5 separate regions of the Homo sapiens genome follow, and all the other regions are linked to region 3. The links come from fine-mapping of genetic effects on gene expression. A gene starts in region 3. Each other region holds a variant in brackets. All regions are shown on one strand. Distances are from middle to middle.

Region 1 (4,123 bases), 25 kb before region 3:
CTAATTTCAATTTACCTGTCTTCAAGAATTCTGTGACATCTTATATTGTTTGAATATGGATTGAACAACCCTGCTAAAAGCTTTGATCAGTTATGTTATAAACCTTTGCTTCCCTGTTCTGTTTCATTTTGCATTTCAGAAATTAATTTTAAAAATACTGCACATCTACTACCATCTGATCTTTGACAAACTGGACAAAAACAAGCAATGGGGAAAGTATTCCCTATTTAATAAATGGTGCTGGGAAAACTGGCTAGCCACAGGCAGAAAATGGAAACTGGACCCCTTCCTTACACCTTATACAAAAATTAACTGAAGATGGATTAACGACTTAGATGTAAAACCCAAAACTATAAAAACCTTAGAAGAAAATCTAGACAATATCATTCAGGACATAGGCACAAACAAAGATTTCATGACAAAAACACCAAAAGCAATTGCAACAAAAGCAAAAAATGACAAGTGGAATCTAATTAAACTGAAGAGCTTCTGCACAGCAAATGAAACTATCATCAGAGTGAACAGACAAACTACAGAAAGGGAGAAAATTTTTGCAATCTATCCTTCTGACAAAGATTCAATATCCAAGAATCTACAAGGAACTTAAACAAAAATTTTGCAATCTATCCACCTGACAAAGGCCCAATATCCAGAATCTACAAGGAACTTCTTTTCCACAAGAAAAAAAACAAACAACCCCATTAAAAAGTGGGCAAAGGGCATGAACAGACACTTCTCGAAAGAAGACATTTATGCAGCTAACAATCACATAAAAAAAAAAAAAAACTTAGCTGGGCATGGTGGCTCATGCGTGTAATCCCAGCACTTTGGAGGCTGAGGCGTGCTAGTGCTATGATCAATACAAGGACCAGAAATGGATCAATTCTACCTTGGAAGACCAGAAGGATGTCACAGACAAGCAGAATAAGATAATCAGGGCATTCTCAATAGAGTTAGTCATGCATGCAAAGACATGGAAGTATGCTTCAAGCAGTGTTTAATGTATTACGGAGGAAGAGGATGCAAGGAGGAAGGATAAGGACAGACGATGTAAAAAATAAGACTAGAGAGATAGTCCAGAGTCAGTGTTGAAACACAAATGAAGTCTAGACTTTATCCAGAAGCTGAGAGAAAGACACATTGAAGAGTTTTAGAGTCAAGTAGCCATGAGGGACTAAACAGTTTAAAAACTAGATAAATTTGATGGCTTTTTGAAGGATGGAGTGGAGAAAGAAGTTCTAAAGGCAGAGTGGCCAGGAAGGAGCCAGTTGCAGCAGTCCCCTCAGGGTAGTGGAGACAGTACAGGGACATGCTTGAGGAACAGCAAAGAAGTCAATGCAACTGGAGCCGAGTGAACATGGGAAAAGTAGTAGGAATTGTTAGAAGTGACAGCTTATAGTGGTTTTTTTAGGCATTGTAAGAACTTGGCCTTTTACTCTGAGTAAAATCGAATGCCACTGATAGGTTTTTTTGTTTGTTTATTTGTTTGTTTGTTTTTTGAGATGGAGTTTCACTCTTGTTGCCCAGGCTGGAGTGCAATGGTGCAATCTTGGCTCACTGCAACCTCTGTCTCCCGGGTTCAAGTGATTCTCCTGCCTCAGCCTCCTGAGTAGCTGGGATTACAGGTGCATGCCACTGTGCTCAGCCAATTTTGTATTTTTAGTAGAGACGGGGTTTCTCCATGTTGGTCAGGCTGGTCTCAAACTCCTGACCTCAGGTGATCTGACCGCCTTGGCTTCCCAAAGTGCTGGGATTACAGGTGTGAGTCACTGCACCCAGGCCATTGATAGGTTTTGAGCAGAGGAATGATATGATTAGTCTTATATTTTGATAGAATGGCTCTGATTGTTGTTGTGCAAAAGTAGAAGTAGTGGTAC[A/T]AAAACCAGGTGCAAGGGTTTGGGAATAATCCAGACTAGTGATAATGACGGCTTGGACCACAGTTGGTGTAGTAAAAGACCACTTGCTTGAACGTGTGTAGAGTGAGAGAGACAGAAAGAAGTAAGGGTGACTCCAAGGGTTTTGGCCGGAACAAAAGGGAGATGAGAGAAGCCGTTAATTGAGATCTGAAAGACTGCTGGTGAAAGAGCATCAGGAGCAGAAGGTCAGGAGCTCAGTTTTGTTCATGTTGATCAGATAAGCCTTCATACAGTCAAGTGGAGATTTTGAGTAGACTGTTGCCAGATATAAGAGTCTAGAGTTCTCAAGAGAGGTTTGAGGTAGATATATAAATCTGTGAGTCACTAATATTAAATATATAGATGGTATTTAAAGAGATGAAATGGATGTAATCACCTAGGAAGTGAGTGTAGATAGGAACAGAAGACTTCCAAAGGTTGGGCTCCAGGGTGCACCAGTGTTGCCAAGTCAGGGATGATGAGTAGAAACCAGAAGAAAAAGTCCAAAGAAACAAAACAAAGTAAACAAATACAAAAACTAAGAAGAAAGAAAGAGGAAAACTAAAAGGGTGTGAAGAAGAAAGTACATTAAGAATGGGATAATGGCAGCTTTGTCAAGTACTACCAAGACATTGAGTAAGATGACATTGAGAATTGACCATCAGACTTAGTAATAGGGAGATTAATGGGAACTGGACAAGGCAGTGAAGTCATGGGGGTAAAATCCTGTCCATTGGGAGGACAGGAATTGAGGCAAGGAGTACATACCATCGTGGAAAGGAATTTTGTTATAAAATAAAGCTGAGAAATGGAGCAGGAATTGGAAGGGGATGTCAGATCAAAAGGCTTTTTTTTTTAAGATAGAAAATGTTACAGGATAGTTGTAGAATATATAATAGGATATTTGTGTTTTCTTTATTGTATCCAATAGAGAAAGAAAAATTGATGATAAACAGTAATGGGGCTGGGCACGGTGGCTCATGCCTATAATCCCAGCACTTTGGGAGGCCGAGGTGGGTGGATCACTTGAGGTCAGGAGTTCTACACTAGACTGGCTAACATGGTGAAACCCTGTTTCTACTGAAAATACAAAAATCAGCCAGGCATGGTGATGTGCGCCTGAAAGCCCAGCTACTCGGGAGGCTGAGGGAGGAGAATTGCTTGAACCTGGGAGACGGAGGTTGCAGTGAGCCAAGATTGGGCCACTGCACTCCAGCCTGGGTGATGGAGCAAGATTCCATCTCAAAAAAAAAAAAAAAAAGGCCGAGCATTGGTGGTTCACGCCTATAATCCCAGCACTTTGAGAGGCCGAGGTGAGCAGATCACTTGAGGCCAGGAGTTTGAGACCACCCTGGCCAACATGATAAAACTCCATCTCTGCTAAAAATACAAAAATTAGCCAGGTGTGGGGGGCAGATGCCTGTAATCCCAGATACTTGGGAGGCTGAGGCAGGAGGATCTTTTGAACCTGGGAAGTGGAGGTTGCAGTGAGCCAAGATTATACCACTACACTCCAGCCTGGGTGGCAGAGTGAGACCCTGTCTCAAAAACAAACAAACAAAAAAATAAACAAAGTAAGAGAGAAGAACTTCTAGAGCAATGTCCTTGGGATCCAGTGCTCAAAGATAGGGGCTAGACTTAAGTAGGGTCAAGAGGAGTCATTTACAGTAAGGATGGGGGGAGGCAGAATTTACAGGTACAAATGGCTGGCAGGTGGGTTGATACTTGGTGGGAGCTTGTGGAAAGGAGTTCTTTTGAGTTGGATAAATAGGCCTGAAGTTCAGAACGGAAGTTTGAGCTAAAGATAGAGACACAGTCATTATCCTTTTGTAGAAGATAGTTGAAGGTATGAAGTAGAAAAAAACCTGGGGCCAGGGGAGAGGGTAGAGTAAGGGACTGAAAGACAGTGAACAACAATGTGGCTACTGGCCATAAGTGCATTAAGAGTTTAGAGAAGGGAATAGCAACAAGACTGGAGAGGCAATGGATTTGAGCTCGAAAGGCAGGATTTGGTCAGAATCATTCCAGGATCAGAGCAACAGTGATCATGTTACAATAAGAAGAGTACTTTTAGCTAAGAACACAAAATATAAAATGGAACCAAGAGAAAGAAGGCTCTTACTGTCTGCTTTGATTCAATATATGCATGGGAAGTATCTTAATTAATGACAGCAATGGTCAAGGGAACTCTAATGGATTACAGTATTGAGGGTTAGGGTGGGAGGAGT
Region 2 (4,123 bases), 37 kb after region 3:
TTCCCACACCAACAGTACAGTGTTCCCTTTTCTCCACAGCCCCACCAGCAGCTGTTATTTTTGACTTTTTAAATAATAGCTATTCTGACTGGTATGAGATTGTATCTCATTGTGGTTTTGATTTGCATTTCTCTGATAATGAGTGATGTTGAGCATTTATTCATATCTTTCTTGGCTGCTTGGATGTCTTCTTTTGAGAAGTATCTGTTCATGTCCTTTGCCCAGTTTTAATGGAGTTTTTTTTTCTTGTTGATTCAAGTTCCTTATACATCCTGGATATAAGCCTTTATTAGACCTTTGGTCAGATGCAGTTTGCAAGTGTTGTTTCCCATTCTGTAGGTTGTCTGTTTACTCTGTTGATAGTTTCTTTTGCTGTGCAAAAGCTCATTAGTTTAATTAGGTTCCACTTGTCAGTTTTCTTTTTTGTCGCAATTGCTTTTGAGGTCTTAGCCATAAATTCTTTCCTAAGGCTGATGCCTAGAATGGCATTTCCTACATTTTCATCTAGATTCTTGTAGTTCCCAGGTCTTATGTTTAAATCTTTAATCCATCTTATCAAAACAATCTACAGATTAGCACTATTCCTACCAAACTACCAAAGTCATTTTTCACAGAATTAGAAAAATTATTTTAAAATTCATATGAACCAGAAAAGAATCCCAAGAGCCAAAGCAATCATAAGCAAAAAACAAAACAAACAAACAAATAAACAAAAACAAAGGCAGCGGCATCACATTATCCAACTTCAAACTACAGTAAGTCCACAGTAACCAAAACATCATGGTACTGATACAAAAACAGACACACAGACCAATGGAACAGAATAGAGAACTCAGAAATAAAGCTTCACACTGATATAGTTTGTATATTTGTCCCCACCCAAATCTCATGTTGAATTGTAATACCCGATGCTGGAGGTGGGGGTCTGGTGGGAGGCATCTGGGTCATGGGGATGCGGCTTTCACAGCTTGGTGCTGCTTGGCAATAATGAGTTCTCACAAGATGTGGTCATTTAAAAGTGTGTGACAGTCCCCCTACTCTCCCTCGCTCCTGCTTTTGCCATGTGAAGCACCTGCTCTTTCTTCGTCTTCTGCCATGAGTAAAAGCTTCCTGAGGCCTCCCCAGAAGCAGATGCTGGCACTGTGCTTCCTGCACAGTCTGCAGAACCATGAGCCAATAAAACCTCTTTTCATATAAATTACCCAGTCTCTGGCATTTCTTTATAGTAATGCAAGAACAGTGTAATACACACACCTACAACCATATGATTTTTTACCAAGTAGACAAAAATAAGCAATAGGGAAAGGACTCTCCATTCAGTAAATGGTGCTGGGATAACTGGCTAGCCATATGCAGAAGAATGAAACTGGACCCCTACCTTTCACCATAATTTTGGTTTTTGAAAAGAGAGTAAAATTCTTAGATGAGGAGAGTATCCTACACTTACAATAATACTTAGGCAGCATGCTCTAGTGTGCAATGGAATTATTGTTTTAAGTACAGAAAATGCAAAAACAAATCTATGTTCTAATAATATTCTTACCTATTTGGGGTTCATGTAATTTAAATGAAACCTAGTAGATAAAAATGCTATGTAAATATGGGACCTAGTAAATCTAAATATCTGTAGCACTTCAAATATGATGATAATGATAAACCAATCTTAAAATATGAGGAAAGCACCTATAAATTAATAGTGCTGCATTATAGTGCTGTTACTGTGTATACCATTTTTATCATGGCAACTTGTAGATTAAACATAAACAAAAGCTTGTACCCTTCAAAATTGAGATCTATTTTTTCTTCTTTTTTTTTTTTTTTTTTTTTTTTTTTGAGACGGAGTCTCGCTCTGTCTCCGAGGCTGGAGTGCAATGGCATGGTCTTGGCTCACTGCAACCTCCACCTCCTGGGTTCAAGTGAGACTCCTGCCTCAGCCTCTCGAGTAGCTGGGACTACAGGCATGTGCCACTACACCTGGCTAATTTTTTGTATTTTTAGTAGAGACGGGGTTTCACCATGCTGGCCAGGATGGTCTCGATCTCCTGACCTTGTGATCCGCGTGCCTCGGCCTCCCAAAGTGTTGGGATTACAGGAGTGAGCCACCGTGCCCAGCAGAGATCTACTATTTATCCAGAGTTCTTAGTGAACCCAAGGAGAAGGTCATGGAAAAGTAACAAGATCTAACGTGAAACAATGATGAGAGGGAAGGAGTAAAGAAAAGGGGAGGGGAGGAGAACTAATGAGAGTTCTCCAAAATACAA[T/C]AAAAACCTGGCACTTTCAAAAACTGAATATGAAGTTTCTTAAATTGGCAAGGCAGAGTAACGTGCACACACAGATGTACATGTACTGATGGCCACACACACAGGCCAAAGCATATTTGGGGACCCACATTTGGACACAGTTGCAGACTAAAACGTGAGTCAGCTGTGTTTCTACTTCTAGAAAAGTGCTATGACAGAGGCCGGGCGCAGTGGCTCAAGCCTGTAATCCCAACACTTTGGGAGGCTGAGGCGGGCGGATCACGAGGTCAGGAAATCGAGACCATCCTGGCTAACACGGTGAAACCCCGTCTCTACTAAAAATATAAAAAAATTAGCCGGGCGTGGTGGCGGGCGCCTGTAGTCCCATCTACTCGAGAGGCTGAGGCAGGAGAATGGCGTGAACCCGGGAGGCGGAGGGAGCCTCCGTCTAAAAAAAAAAAAAAAAAGTTTGTTTGGGTGTGGTGCTATTGACACAGGAAACAGACCATATATTCCTTCAAAAGCCAGCCTTCAAAAATGCCCTCTTACAGGGAAAAGCAACTGGCTTGTGGTAGAGGGCTGACTTCCGCTTAACAGTGATGTCCAGGTGATAATCTCATTCTCCTCCAGCCTCCAGGCGTCTCAGGAGTATCTGTCTGTTACACTGTTTTTTTCTATTCATAGCTCAGTACAGTTGACACTTGAGCAATGCAGGTTGGAACTGCACACATCCACTTATATGTAGATTTTTTCAATAAATATATTGAAAAATATTTTGGAGATTTGTGACAATTTGAAAAATCCTGCGGACAAACCACATAGCTTAGAAATATTGAAAAAATTAAGAAAAAGATAAGTAATGAATGCATACAATATATGTAGAAACTAATTTATCATTGATTGCCATAAAACATATGCAACTCTATTATATAAAGTCAAAATTTATCATAATACACATGCACTTACAGACCACACATAATCCCATTTGCAATGAAGACAAATGTAAACATATGTAAAGATGCAGTATTAAATCATTACCACATAAAATTTATTGTAGTATTACATATTGTACTACTGTAATAACTTTATTGCCCCTTCCTGTTGCTACTGTGGTGAACTCAAGTGTTGCAAGACTCTGCTTCATGCCCTGTGGCACTAATCATCTTTGCATGAGCAGTTCCTCTTCAGCAAATTGGGGATTGCAGCAAAAAGTGATTTTGGGGTTCTTGTGTATTTTTCATTGTGTTTAGTGCAATACCACAAACCTTGAATAACACCATGGGACCCACAGGAAGTGCCACTAGTGATGGTGGAAATGCTTCCAAGAAGCAGAGAAAAGTCACATTACAAGAAAAAGTTGAATTGCCTGATATGGACCATAGATTGTGGTCTACAGCTGCAGGTGCCCCTATTTCAGACAGATAATTGTATTTTCTATTTTCTATGGGTTTCTTAATACCATTTTTAAAACTTTATTGTAAGAATACAGCAAATAATACATAATACATATACAATATGTGTTAATCACTTATGTTATTGGTAAGGCTTCTGGTCAACAGTAGGCTATTCGTAGTTAAATCTGGGAGGAGTCAAAAATTACATTTGGATTTTTCACCGTATGGCAGATGGGCACCCCTAACACCCACATTATTCAAGAGTCAACTGTATTTGTCAAATATCCATAGCCAGGCATGAAGATTTTAGAGCTTTCCTAATCCTGGACTGTGGTTTCAATTTAAACTTAGAGAATTTGGGCTTACTAGAGTCATTCATTTTGGGGGCACAGATGCTAGAGAGAGGAAGATTTCTCTGCTCTGGCTCGTACCCCACTAAAACTTCAATAATTGCAGGATCAACAGGACACTGTGTTTGGTGGTTTGCAG
Region 3 (4,123 bases):
ATAGTTACTAAAGTAAAAAATTAGATATGCCTGTTTGCAGATTGAACTATAAAAATACCATTCAAAGACAAATAGATCTAAAAATAAAATGGAAAAACATAAACACTAATTCTGTAAATATTATACTTAATGCACAACTGAAACAAAATTTGCCAGCTTACTCAATATCAAAATCTATGAACAGTTTTTCTATTTTATATAATTTCCCTCTCCTCTCTCTGGATCTCGCTCCCCAGCTCATTTTTTCTTTTTTTTGCTCTGATTCTTTATACACCTCTGTTGCCTCTGTGATAAGCAGCTTCAAAGATGGTTCCTAATGCTTTATTGGATAGAATACAACAAAAGCGATGAGGTGTTGCTTCCCCAATTACATTACGAAGCATCCGTGGCTTCCATCTCCAGTGGGTTCACTTGCTGTCTGGCTCTAAGGGAATCCAGATACCATAATGCGGGCTGCCCTATGGTGAGGTTTGCATCACTAGGAACTCATGTCTCTGGGCAACAACCAATGAGGTCTTGATCCCTGCCGTCAGCCACATGAGGGAGCTTGGAGCTCGGAAGTGAATCCTCCTGGAGTCAAGCCTTGATATAGCTAGCCCTGGCAGCTGCTTGACTGCAGCCTTGTGAAAGAGACCTTGGGCCAGAGGCACCAGCTAAACTGCCCCTGGATTCCTGACCCAGAGAAAGTGGGAGATGATGTATTTTTGCTTTTTGAAGCTGCTGAATTTGGGGATAATTTGTTATATAGCAATAGAAAATGAGTAACTCTTTTGTATTCCTCTTTGTCCTGGCTTCCCCATTTTGAGGAAAATAAAGTAAATCAAAGTGTAGAGCTGAAATATTCACATGAAAATAATAATAAAGTTTTAAAATTATTTGAATGTCTTGTGTTGACATTCCAAAATATATGAATTCCAAAAATTTATATGTTGAAGTCCTAACTGTCAGTATCTTAGAATGTAACTTTTTTGGAAAAGGGGTCATTTCAGATCTAATTAGTTAAGATGAAGTTATACTGGAGTACAGTGGGCACTAAATCGAATTGGTCCTATGATTGAGTCTCAGTCTTTCAGTGAGCCTGTACCCCTGGGTTTATGACCTTCAGTTGGCTTTTTTCTTCTGCCCTTATTTGGCATAAAAACAAAGCAGGTGGATCACCTGAGGTCAGCAATTTGAGACCAGCCTGCCCAACACGGCGAAACCCTATCTCTACTAAAAATACAAAAAATTAGCCTGGCGTGGTGGCGGGCGCCTGTAATCCCAGCTACTTGGGAGGCTGAGGCAGGAGAATCACATGAACCCGAGAGGCGGAGGTTGCAGTGAGCCGAGATTTCGCCACTGCACTCTAGCCTGGGTGACAAGAGTGAAACTCCATCTCAAACAACAACAACAATAAACAAACAACAACGATGACAAAAAAAGCTAGAGCTGGGATTTTCCCTTTCCCTGTGTTAAAGATTAGAGTGGTGTCCTCACAAAAAGGGAAAACTTGGATACAGGCACACACATGGGGAGAATAGCATATGAAGAGACACAGGGAGAAGGCAGCCATCTATGGGTCAAGGAGAGAGGCCTGGAACACATCTTTCCTTCACCGCCCTCAGGAGGAACCAACTCTGCTGACACCTTCATCTGGGACTCCCACCCTCCAGAACTGCAAAGCAATAAATTTTTTATTTTTTACACCACCCAGTTTATTGTATTTTGTTAGGCAGCCCTAGCGAACTAATGTACATAGAGTTCTTGAGTTAATCTTCACAAATTACTGCAATAAGGTAGGGTCTTTTGTTATGTAACAATGCTATGAAATCATAGCGTTTTCTTAATTAACTTCCGTAGTTTAAGGTACTAAGTTCTGGACACCACGTGTCTTCTTTCTATAAATACCAGGACATGCTCTGTTTTTCAGCACTCATTGGACTTCAGCATGACTACTCAGTTGCCAGCTTACGTGGCAATTTTGCTTTTCTATGTCTCAAGAGCCAGCTGCCAGGACACTTTCACTGCAGCTGTTTATGAGCATGCAGCGATATTGCCCAATGCCACCCTAACACCAGTGTCTCGTGAGGAGGCTTTGGCATTAATGAATCGGAATCTGGACATTTTGGAAGGAGCGATCACATCAGCAGCAGATCAGGTACCATCTCTACCATCTCTCCAGTGTACTGGATTCTATGAGAAAGGAGGGGGTCCTAGGAGACAGGGCCACTGTCAGGGTCAGTTACACTTTTAGATGATATATGTATCAGAGTAGCCAAGAACCTTTATTTTACAGTTAGAATTCTACTTTCCTCTCAAAATTAGAGCAAGGACTTCCCTAAAAGTAAGAACAAAGTTAAGAAAAGAACAATTTGCTCATTATCAAGAAGCAGCAGACCTTTGAGGAACTGGCCATAAATTCAACATCTTTGTTCCCCTTTTCTGGTACAGATGGAGGATGGAGGATAAATGGGTCAGGGACTAGGTGCTATTTTCAGAGTATTAGTGGCCTTCATGTACTCATGTGCTATTAAGGCTTTGCAGGTTTTCGAATAAATTTATAATCTGAAAACAAATTTAAGTTTTCAATTCCTTGCCAGCATGCATTATATACTTCACACTTCATTCTAATTACAAGATAAAAGTATATGTAATGCATTGTGAGTCCTTAAGTTTAGTGAAGGTTTCAGTTTGAAGTTAATCATACAGTATAAATTGTGGTTTACACAAATATTATTTTAAAAGCTATTGATCGATTAGGTGTAGACCAGGAATACATGAAGTGTGATAAAAGTCATGGATAAATGTGTATTACATATATCTATAAATATATATTCTTTTGTGTTGTTGAGTTAAGGTCTCACTCTGTCACCCAGGATGGAGTATAGTGGTGTGATCACGTCTCACTGCAGCCTTGACTTCCCGGGCTCAGGTGATTCTCCCACTACAGTCTCCAGAGTAGCTGGGACCACAGATGCATGCCACCGTGCCCAGCTAAGTTTTGTATTTTTTGTAGAGATGGGATTTTGCCATGTTGCCCACGCTGTACTTGAACTCCTGACCTCAGGTGATCCACCTGCCTTGGGCTCCCAAAGTGCTGGGATTACAGGCATGAGCTACCGTGACTGCCCTATATTCTTATATATACTAATATTTAAAAGGTTATCAGGAGTTCTGATGTTCTTTTTCATCCTTAGTCCAACTATTTCCTTGAAGGTCACAGAGCTTTTTAAGGTGACTCTCTAATTGGAAGGTGCCCAGGTTAGCTCAGGCAGTACTTGTAGGCATGGGACAGTTCAAGTAACCAGTTTGTGGCTCCTCTTTTTCTGAGAAGCAGGAATCATGTTTGCAGGGGAAAGCTAGGGCAGAGGAGGAAATAAACAGAATATTTAAGTTATTAATCAGTCTTGACACAGGCACAGTCATCAGCGAAAGTTCAAGGAGAGGCTTGGTTCCAGGATAAGCTAGGTTTATAGTTAACGACTGCCATAGGAAACAACAATGGCAGGATTAGAAAATTAAAATGCTTGACTAAGCCAGGTGCGGTGGCTCATGTCTGTAATTCCAACACTTTGGGAGGCTGAAGCAGGCGGATCACCTGAGGTTGGGAGTTCAAGACCATCCTGACCAATATGGAGAAACCCCATCTCTACTAAAAATACAAAAATTAGCCAGGCGTGGTGGCAGATGCCTGTGATCCTAGCTACTTATGAGGCTGAGGCGGGAGAATCGCTTGAACCCGGGAGGTGGAGATTGTGGTAAGCCGAGATCTAGCCATTGCACTCCAGCCTGGGCAGCAGAGCGAAACTCCATCTGAAAAAAAAAAAAAAGAGAGAAAAAAAAATGCTTGACTAGAAGCCCAAACCTCACCATTATGTAACATATCCATGCAACAAACCTGCATTTGTACCCTTTGAATCTAAAATTAGAAATAAAGAAAAGAAAAGAAAAAGAAAAAGAAGTGACAGTGCACTGAAAAAAAAGGAAATTAAAATGCTTTGGAAAAGAAAATAAATTATAAAAATATAGAAAACAAAATAAGATTTAAGGGGTGTGGGGGAAGCCCAAATAGTTGTTACTCAGCCACTCAGCTCCTCAGCTCCTCTTGCAGGCCCCCCTTTGGATTAAGTTGCATTTTTAACAG
Region 4 (4,123 bases), 130 kb after region 3:
GTTTGGGGGAGAGGGGATGGTGCTGCCTACCACAGGCCCCTAGGGTGTTCTTCCCTTCTATTTAATCCAAGACCTTATATCTTCACTATCAATTACTTTGAGTGCCATACTATCAAAGCCACACATTCCCACATGCTCCTGACTTAAAAATTGACTGAATTCTCTTGACTTCCAGTTACACATGCTAATTCAATACTAGCTTGAAAAAATGTGGCTTTAGCCTGAAAGCACAGCACAGCTACTAAATGACACTAAAGAAAGCACAACTTCAAGCAGGGAGACATTTCAGTGCTTGGGTGTGTTAAGGGCAGCTTTCTAGATAACATCAACCATCCTGAGGAACAATCAGTAGCTTAGATGGGTTTGACTCAAGTCCTCATGTAGTTAAGCGTTGGGAAAGGAGAATTTATTTCATTGACCTGTTGCTTCCGCAACTCAATCCAAGCCCTATTTCTGTGTGTTCTTTTATTTCAGGAAAAAGACATTAGGAGAAAGAAAACTCCCCAGGTCTCAGCACTACTCTTTTCTGTGAGTCCCAGGTAGTTCATGTTCTGCTGCTACCATGGTGCTGGTTACCCTGGCCTCTGACACTGAGTTCCACCACAGTCCTCACTACTCTCTTTCTCTCCCCAAGTTTTCAAACTGCTCCACTTTGTACTCCAGGTGACTCTCCTGCAATATGTGGCAACTCAGTCAGGCAAACTTAGATCATCTGCTTCCTAACTGATGGTCTTTTGATGGTAAATGTAGCATGGCATTTGAAAGTTTGTGTATGAAAGTCTCGGGGTAGAACTCTGTACAATGCCACTCTCTGCTACATTCTGACACTTACAGACACTCCTGATCCTAGTCATTTGGTGCATTCCAGACCTGTCTTTCATTCATGCTTTCAGGTGAATTCCTTGCCTGCTTGGAGCTCATTTTCCAATACTGCTGCCCCTCACAGTGCTTGGGGTAATTTTTTCTCTTTTTGTTGTTTTTGATGGTTTCCATCTAACCCCATGATCAAATCTGTGAATTCCAGTCCCAGTGTTGGCTTGACCATCTCTCAAGTAACTTGGGTTATCATCAAAATCGGCTTCTGAGAGCTAGCCTTAGCACACCAAACTCCACTGTGGGTACACAGAGAAAGCCCTGCTATGTTACTCACATGTGCTTGTATTAGAAATTCTAGGACTGGAAGGAACTTTAGTGGCCATGGATTGGAGTTACATTATTTCACATTAAGGTCCAATAAGATAAACTGACTTGTCTGAAGTCCCACAAACTATGATTGGCAGAGACAGGACCTAGAACCCAGAAACCTAATGTTTGGCCAGCACAATTTCCGTCACCTCAATCTTGCTTTGAAGGAGGATTACACAGTAGGTGAAAGTAGGACCTTTATAGTTAACAGAGCTGGCTCCAAATCCCAGTCTGCCTCTTACCAACACTGCTCGGGGCCATGCTGCTTGAAATGTGTAGGCTTCAGAAAGAGTGCAAGCTGGAAAATAGCTTAGAGGTTTCTCTGAAAATGATTAGCAAGCAAAGATATGTTTAATAGTAACATGAAACTCATGAATGGTTCAGATCTCAGGTATCAAATATTTTCCAATAAACTTTTTTTTTTTTTTTTT[G/TG]AGACAGTCTTGCTTTGTCACCCAGGCTGGAGTGCAGTGGCGTGATTGCAGCTCACTGCAACCTCAGCCTTCAGGGTTTAAACGACTCTTGTGCCTCAGCTTCCCAAGTAGCTAGGATTACAGGTGTGCACCACCATGCCAGGCTAATTTTTTTGCATTTTTAGTAGAGATGGGGTTTAACTATTATTGGCCAGGCTGGTCTCTAACTCTTGGCCTCAAGTGATCCACCTGCCTTAGCCTCCCAAAATGCTGGGATTTTACAGGTGTGAGCCACCATGCCCAGCCCCCATAAACTCTTTAGGAAGATTTTTTTTATTTCATAGAGTGAGTCCTTTGAAATAGTTTTCTATGATTGAGTTTTATTGATTGAGTTCTAAGAATGAAAAGGCTTGCTGAACACTAGATGTTAAGAGATTTAGTGGCACATTCAACAAGTCTTCAGATAAGGCCAACCTAGCTATTTTATTCTTTTAAAAATGCATCTAAGGCTGGGCACAGTGGCTCAAATCTGTAGTCCCAGCACTTCAGGAGGCCAAAATGGGAGTATTGCTTGAAGTCGTGTTTGAGACCAACCTGGGCAACAAAATGAGATCCCTTTTCTACAAAAATAAATTTTTTTTAAAAATTAGCCAGGCATGGTCGCACACGCCTGTAGCCCCAGCTACATGGGAGTGTCACCTGAGCCCAGGAGTTTGAGACTGCATTGAGCTATGATCATGCCACTGTACCCCAGCCTAGGTCACAGCAAGACCCTGCCCCTCCCCAAAAAAGCTTATAAAAAGAATGCATTTTTCCAGGCTTAATAACTAGGTAATGAGTTGATAGGTGCAGCAAACCACCATGGCACACATTTACCTATGTAAGAAAACTGCACATCCAGCACATGTACCCCAGAACTTTAAAAAAAAAAAAAAGAATACATTTAATGTATCCTCCCAATGCTGGGGAATCTATTTCTATTTTATTTATTCACTCATTTATTTACTCAACTGACCAAAGTAAAACAACAACATAGGAGCAAAGAAATAAAACACCAGTACAAACTGTCTGATTTACTCATAGTGATACTTCAGCAAGTATCTGACCTCCTGCAGCTTACATGTCATTAAGAGACAGACAGTTAAAACACAAGAAAATAAACAGATGAATAAGATTGTAACACATTCTGATATGTACCATGAAGGAAATGATATAAAAACAAGGTGAGTAAAAGAATAAAACATGGATAACAACATTAGCCGAGATCTTGATTTTTCTGAGGGAGCGATGTTAAAGCTGAGACCTGTGTAAGGAACCAGCTCCGTGAAGATCTGAGGACTGAGTGATCCAACAGATGAAAAACCCTGTGCGAGTCTCCTGAGCGACCTAGTACAACAGATGGGATAGCCAGTGCACAGCTCCTGAGGCATCCTGTGGGGGGTAGCCGAGGGGCTGGGATTGGACAAATATATTTGGAGCATAACAAGTAAAGGGAGAGCAGAATAGGTAGTGGGTAGAGAGTTGTGCGGGGCTAAGACTATGCAAAGCCTCATAGATCAGAATCACAGAGTTAGAATTTTATTCCAAACACAACAGAAATTAGGCTTTGGGTTTTGAATTATGAATTCACCATAGCCCACAGTGACCAAGATCTGATGCTGGGGCTGGTCAGGAGTCTATACGACCTAGTGGGTTTTTCTGTGTTTGCTGCTGTGGTTAAAATTAGCCATAGCATCCCCTGCCCTCCATCTCATAGCTCTGCATCGTGACTCCATTAGCCATCTGGTAGAGGGCAGCCCTACTAGTGAAATATTAATTGTTCTTGCATTTAAGTCTTTAATCTGTCTTGAGTTAATTCTTGTATAGGATGTAAGGAAGGGGCCCAGTTTCAATTTTTTTGCATATGGCTAGCCAGTTCTTCCAGCACCATTTATTAAATGGGGAATACTTTCCCAATATCTTGTTTTTTTGTCAAGTTTGTTGAAGACCAGATGATTCTAGATGTATGTTTTCATTTCTGAGTTCTCTATTCTGTTCCATTGGTCTATGTGCCGGTTTTGTACCAGTACCATGCTGTTTTGGTTACTGTAGCCTTGTAGTATAGTTTGAAGTTGGGTCGCTTGGTGCCTCTTTTGTTTTGTTCTTTTTGCTTAGGATTGGCCTGGCTATACGAGCTTTTTTTAAGTTCCATATGAATTTTGAAATCTTTTTTTTCTAATTCTGTGAAGAATGTCAATGGTAGTTTAATGGGAATAGCATTGAATCTATAAATTGCTTTGGGCAATATGGCCATTTTCATGATATTGATTCTTCAGTAGGAGCTGAACAATGAGAATACAAGGACACAAGGAAGGGAGCATCACACACTGGGGCCTGTTGAAAGAGGGTAGGGTGGGGGCAGAGAGCATTAGGGAAAATAGCTAATGCATGCTGGGCTTAATACCTAGGTGATGGGTTGATAGGTGCAGCAAACCACCATGGCACATGTTTACCTATGTAACAAACCTGCACATCCTGCACATGTACCT
Region 5 (4,123 bases), 56 kb after region 3:
AGAAATAGAATAAAATAGGAAATATCAGACTGACTTAAACAAAGTAAGGGTATTTTTTAATGAAAACTTTTACATTTGTTATGGGTGCCTACCTACATATGTACTGAACAAGAATATAAAATGTATTTCTTCCTATAGTTGTGGTTCAAAAGTAGTTTGAAAGCCATTGCTTTAAAGTATTTTCTAACTATAATATGTTATTGGGTTTGAGTACATTCTATTTTTTAAAAATATTCATTTGTTGGGTACAGGTCATCTCTTTTGAAAGCAAGTTGTTTTTTAAATGCTAGTTATTTTCTTTGTACAGGTGTGTAATAGAGAAGTACTTTTCTTTCAAATCAATCAGCAATTAAGTCAGTTTTAATGGACATGTGTTTTCATTTATGTGCTGTTAATGCATCGCTGTGGTTCCTGGTGGCCCACGCTTGGAATTATTTTTAAAGTAGTTGTAATATTTACCTTCTCTATTTAGCTTGCTCACTGCTAGCTTCCTGATGCTGGTTCAGAATAAAAGCTCCTCCCAGTTATATTTCTTGATAACATATTGTTAGCTTGTTTCAGAAAGATTTATTATCAGCTTTTGTTTTGGATTTTAATATTTGCGTCATTCTGTCTATGTGAACTGTGGCCTATCATAGAGCAGCAGTGGGCTCTAGCCAGCAGCAGGTATCCAGGAGATTGATGCAGACTGGTCCCAAAGGCAGTGTTCCTGCTGTCTGCTCATCCGCTGACTGTGTTCACTCTTACCTGAGCAGGTGGGTCTGAATTTGCTGAACAGCCAAACCAAATCCTAGAGACTAACCCAAAGGCCTAAAGTAGTATTTTACAGGAAGAATGCTAAAGATAATGAGATTTATCAATGGCTTGGTACTTATCCATCTGTTAAAATTTAGGATTATTTAGTGCGAAGATTAACAAGGGTTTTCTGTAATTTAGTTGCTTAGTAGCCCCTTTAGCAAGAGAAGCTAAAAGAATGGTTATATATTTTTAAATAGCTTGCTTTACATGTCTTTTAAAAAGTGTTGTTTCTCTTTTATTAAAAATTCATTTATGGAAAGCTAGGACATTTGAAAAGTTGAAACTTTTAAAAAATCTCCTTTTCTTGTTAATGAAGAAAGAAATTCTATGCTGTGTACATTGGCTAGTTTTAACATCATGTAAGGAGTCCTTATAGATTTTTTTAGGTTTTACAATTACAATATGTCTTATTGTTACTATATACACAACTAAACTGCAAAACCATAATCTTATTTGCACAGATATTATTTGTGCAAATATATTTGGTAGGAAAAATCCCAGTACATTTTCAAATGTATTGTGTCATATTAACATAATCCCTTTCAACTTAAACTAAATTCAGTGTGTGTGTATACCTGCCATATATTAGATCAATTAACTTAAGAACCTTTTAGTTACATTACCTAAATCTGATTCATATTACTTTATGCATGTCAAAATAGCAGAAACACTTTCATGTATAGTACATTTATCATAATATTGCTGGTGACTGTTTTACTCTTATTTGTTGGTTTGTGTTGATGTAGGAGCAAACAAATGAATTTCGTCCCATTTCCTGTTTCTTTGAAACAGAAATGGTTCACTTCCAGCAATGTTTCATCTCAAGAACCATGACTTAAACATTTAAAAATGCTGTTTCCCCTCACCCTGGTCTCTTTCCCCCTTTAGAAATAAGTATTTTTCAAACATATTTTAGTATGTTTATTAAAAATACTGGAATTACAGAGCTACAAGTATAGTTTTGGAGTAAAATTATTATTGTCTATTTTACATTTTATAATAGAACAAAAACAGGAAATGAGTTCAGTTCAGTAATTTAGTAAAAGTATAATTTTAGTACAAAGGTAAAATAGATAAATAAATCATGCAAAGAATTATACAAGTCAAAGAAACAAATAATACAAATTTATTGATAATTATTCACCAATAGTTTTTTAAAATGAAACTCAATTTATAAACAATACATTTACTTTTATTAAAAAAATTTCTAGTTATGAAAGTGAAACAGTCCCATAGAAAGAAACTTAGAATATGTCATAGAGATGGAAAAGTAAATAAAATTCACCCATAATTCACCACCCAGGTAAAAACGTTGCTAAAATTTTGTGTTATTTTCTTTTTGTTGTTAATCTTTTTGTGTGTTTTTTGAGTTTCAATCTCACTATCTCTGAGTAAACAATATTGAGAATTGGAGTATTCCATTCCATACTTATTTCCCATAATTACATAAATGCATGTGAGTGTGTATCCCTATTTATGATATTTTTAAATACTCTGCAAATGTTTTCTACTTAACAATATATTGACATATGATATTTTAGAATACATAATTGTATATTTTTAAATAACCTGTAAATGTTTTTTCTTTACTTAAAAATATACTATTGACAACTTTCTGTCTCTATATAGAAAGAACCAGATCATTTTATTTAACATCTTGTTAAATACATATCATATGTCTACTGATATATATATATATAT[ATG/G]TAAGTCTGACATCAAAGTTTAGATTATTTTACTTTTTTCTTTCGTTGCTATTACAAAAACAATTGCACTGAACGGAGCTGATTCAAACAATGTGAGCATTTTAAATTTTAAAAAAATGCTGCTAGACCAACTGTCCAAAATTTAATTATAACTACGCATCTTTCCATCCAGTCAAGAAGTTTAACTTGCCAGCCCCTCAGCACCCCTGATAACAACTAGGTGTTATTAAGATAGTTAGAATTTAAGTTTCAGGCCAATGTTAAGTGTTTCCTTGAAATTTATTTGTTTTTCATTTTGAATGTTCTTTTAACAAGCATTGTATTGTGTCATATTAACATAACCCCTTTCAATTTAAACTAAACCTTACTTTATATATTAATCATTGTTGTTGCTTTTATTTTTCATCTCTTGCTATTTATAAATTTTTGTTTTGATTTAATTTTTATATTGCTAGAGTATTTCCTAGAATTTCTCAGCAGGTGGTCATAAATACATTGTTACTGTCATTCTTTTACTCTTATATGATCACCCTTTTGACTGCATATAGGATTGTTGAATTGTCATCCTATTTCCCTCATAATTTCTAACCTCATTCTATTGCCTTCTGGCTTCCAAAATGACAGAGGAGATGTCCTATGCTAGCCTGAACTTCTTTCCTTTTAAAATAACCAGTTCTTTCTATTTGGGTGCTTATACAATCTTTTTCCTTGATACTCAGAATTCAGAACCAGGCTAAGTATATGTGCATGAATTTTTTTTAAGGTTCTATGAGGCACAGAAATGAAAATGAACTCCTCAGTTCATTTGTTCATTCATTCAATTCTTTATTCCCTTTTGTGCTCAGTACATGTTGTAGATATTTTCAGGCCTTGGAGCTTCAGCAGTGAATAAAACACATGCCATTCCCTTCTGACATCCTACTTCTATATATATATTTCATCTTATTGTCTCTCCCTCCCCCTATTTATCTCTGTTTCTCCCTTTCCTTACCTTCTGCCTATAGTGACCCATTAGAGTGCATCTATTTAAATTTAAATATATGTGTATTCTTGACACAGCACCTTGATTTCCCTTGCATTACTCTTGGATGTTTACTTAGTTGTTGATGAACACTATCTACAAGATGCTATTATAAGCATTTTATAAAAATTAACTCATTCCAGCTTCATAAGAGCTCTAGAAAATAGTTTTTTTTGTTTTTGTTTTCTTTTTGTTTGGTTGTTTTTCACATGAGGAAACTGCAGCCTCTGGAGGCTGGGTAGTATGTTCAAGGTCACAGGACCAGTGAATGGCCCAGCCAGGACTTGAACCAAACAGCTGAGCACTAAAGGCCTGCTCTTCCTCACACAGCTCCAACCTCACAAGGGCAAAGCGTTCGATTTCCCCTGCTTCTTGTCCCTCTGCAGTCACCATCTTCCCCATCTCTCTAACTAGTACCTCTGTTTTTCAAGCTGCTCAAGCCAAAGCCCTGTTACTTCCCTCCATGACTTTCTCTAAACCGACAATCAAGGCTATCTACAATTCCTGCTGGCTGTTTCTTCAAAACATGTCCAAACGTGATCTCTCCTCTCCACCCTGACAAACATTGCTGTGCTCCAAAGCACCATCTTCTCTCACCAGG

What was found. PIP is the estimated chance that this variant, and not a neighbour inherited with it, causes the effect. A credible set is the group of variants that fine-mapping cannot tell apart.
Region 1: its variant is the best candidate, but not a certain one, in a credible set for the expression of VNN1 in whole blood (TOPMed, PIP 0.86).
Region 2: its variant is the best candidate, but not a certain one, in a credible set for the expression of VNN1 in whole blood (INTERVAL, PIP 0.68).
Region 4: its variant is the best candidate, but not a certain one, in a credible set for the expression of VNN1 in whole blood (INTERVAL, PIP 0.52).
Region 5: its variant is the best candidate, but not a certain one, in a credible set for the expression of VNN1 in whole blood (INTERVAL, PIP 0.74).

The regions. Positions count from the first base shown.
Region 1 is chr6:132,736,811-132,740,933 of GRCh38, reverse strand. No RefSeq gene overlaps it. Among named protein-coding and RNA genes, the nearest start is that of VNN2, 19 kb to the left of the region's middle. The variant A/T (reference allele first, on the strand shown) is at 1,878.
Region 2 is chr6:132,675,267-132,679,389 of GRCh38, reverse strand. It overlaps the pseudogene HLFP1. Among named protein-coding and RNA genes, the nearest start is that of TAAR1, 18 kb to the right of the region's middle. The variant T/C (reference allele first, on the strand shown) is at 2,262.
Region 3 is chr6:132,711,840-132,715,962 of GRCh38, reverse strand. VNN1 (vanin 1) reads left to right here and starts at 1,908. Exons shown (of 7, transcript NM_004666.3): 1 at 1,908-2,137. The coding sequence starts at 1,928.
Region 4 is chr6:132,577,128-132,581,250 of GRCh38, reverse strand. No RefSeq gene overlaps it. Among named protein-coding and RNA genes, the nearest start is that of TAAR6, 8.9 kb to the right of the region's middle. The variant G/TG (reference allele first, on the strand shown) is at 1,617.
Region 5 is chr6:132,655,762-132,659,884 of GRCh38, reverse strand. TAAR1 (trace amine associated receptor 1) reads left to right here and starts at 703. Exons shown (of 2, transcript NM_138327.4): 1 at 703-755. The variant ATG/G (reference allele first, on the strand shown) is at 2,500.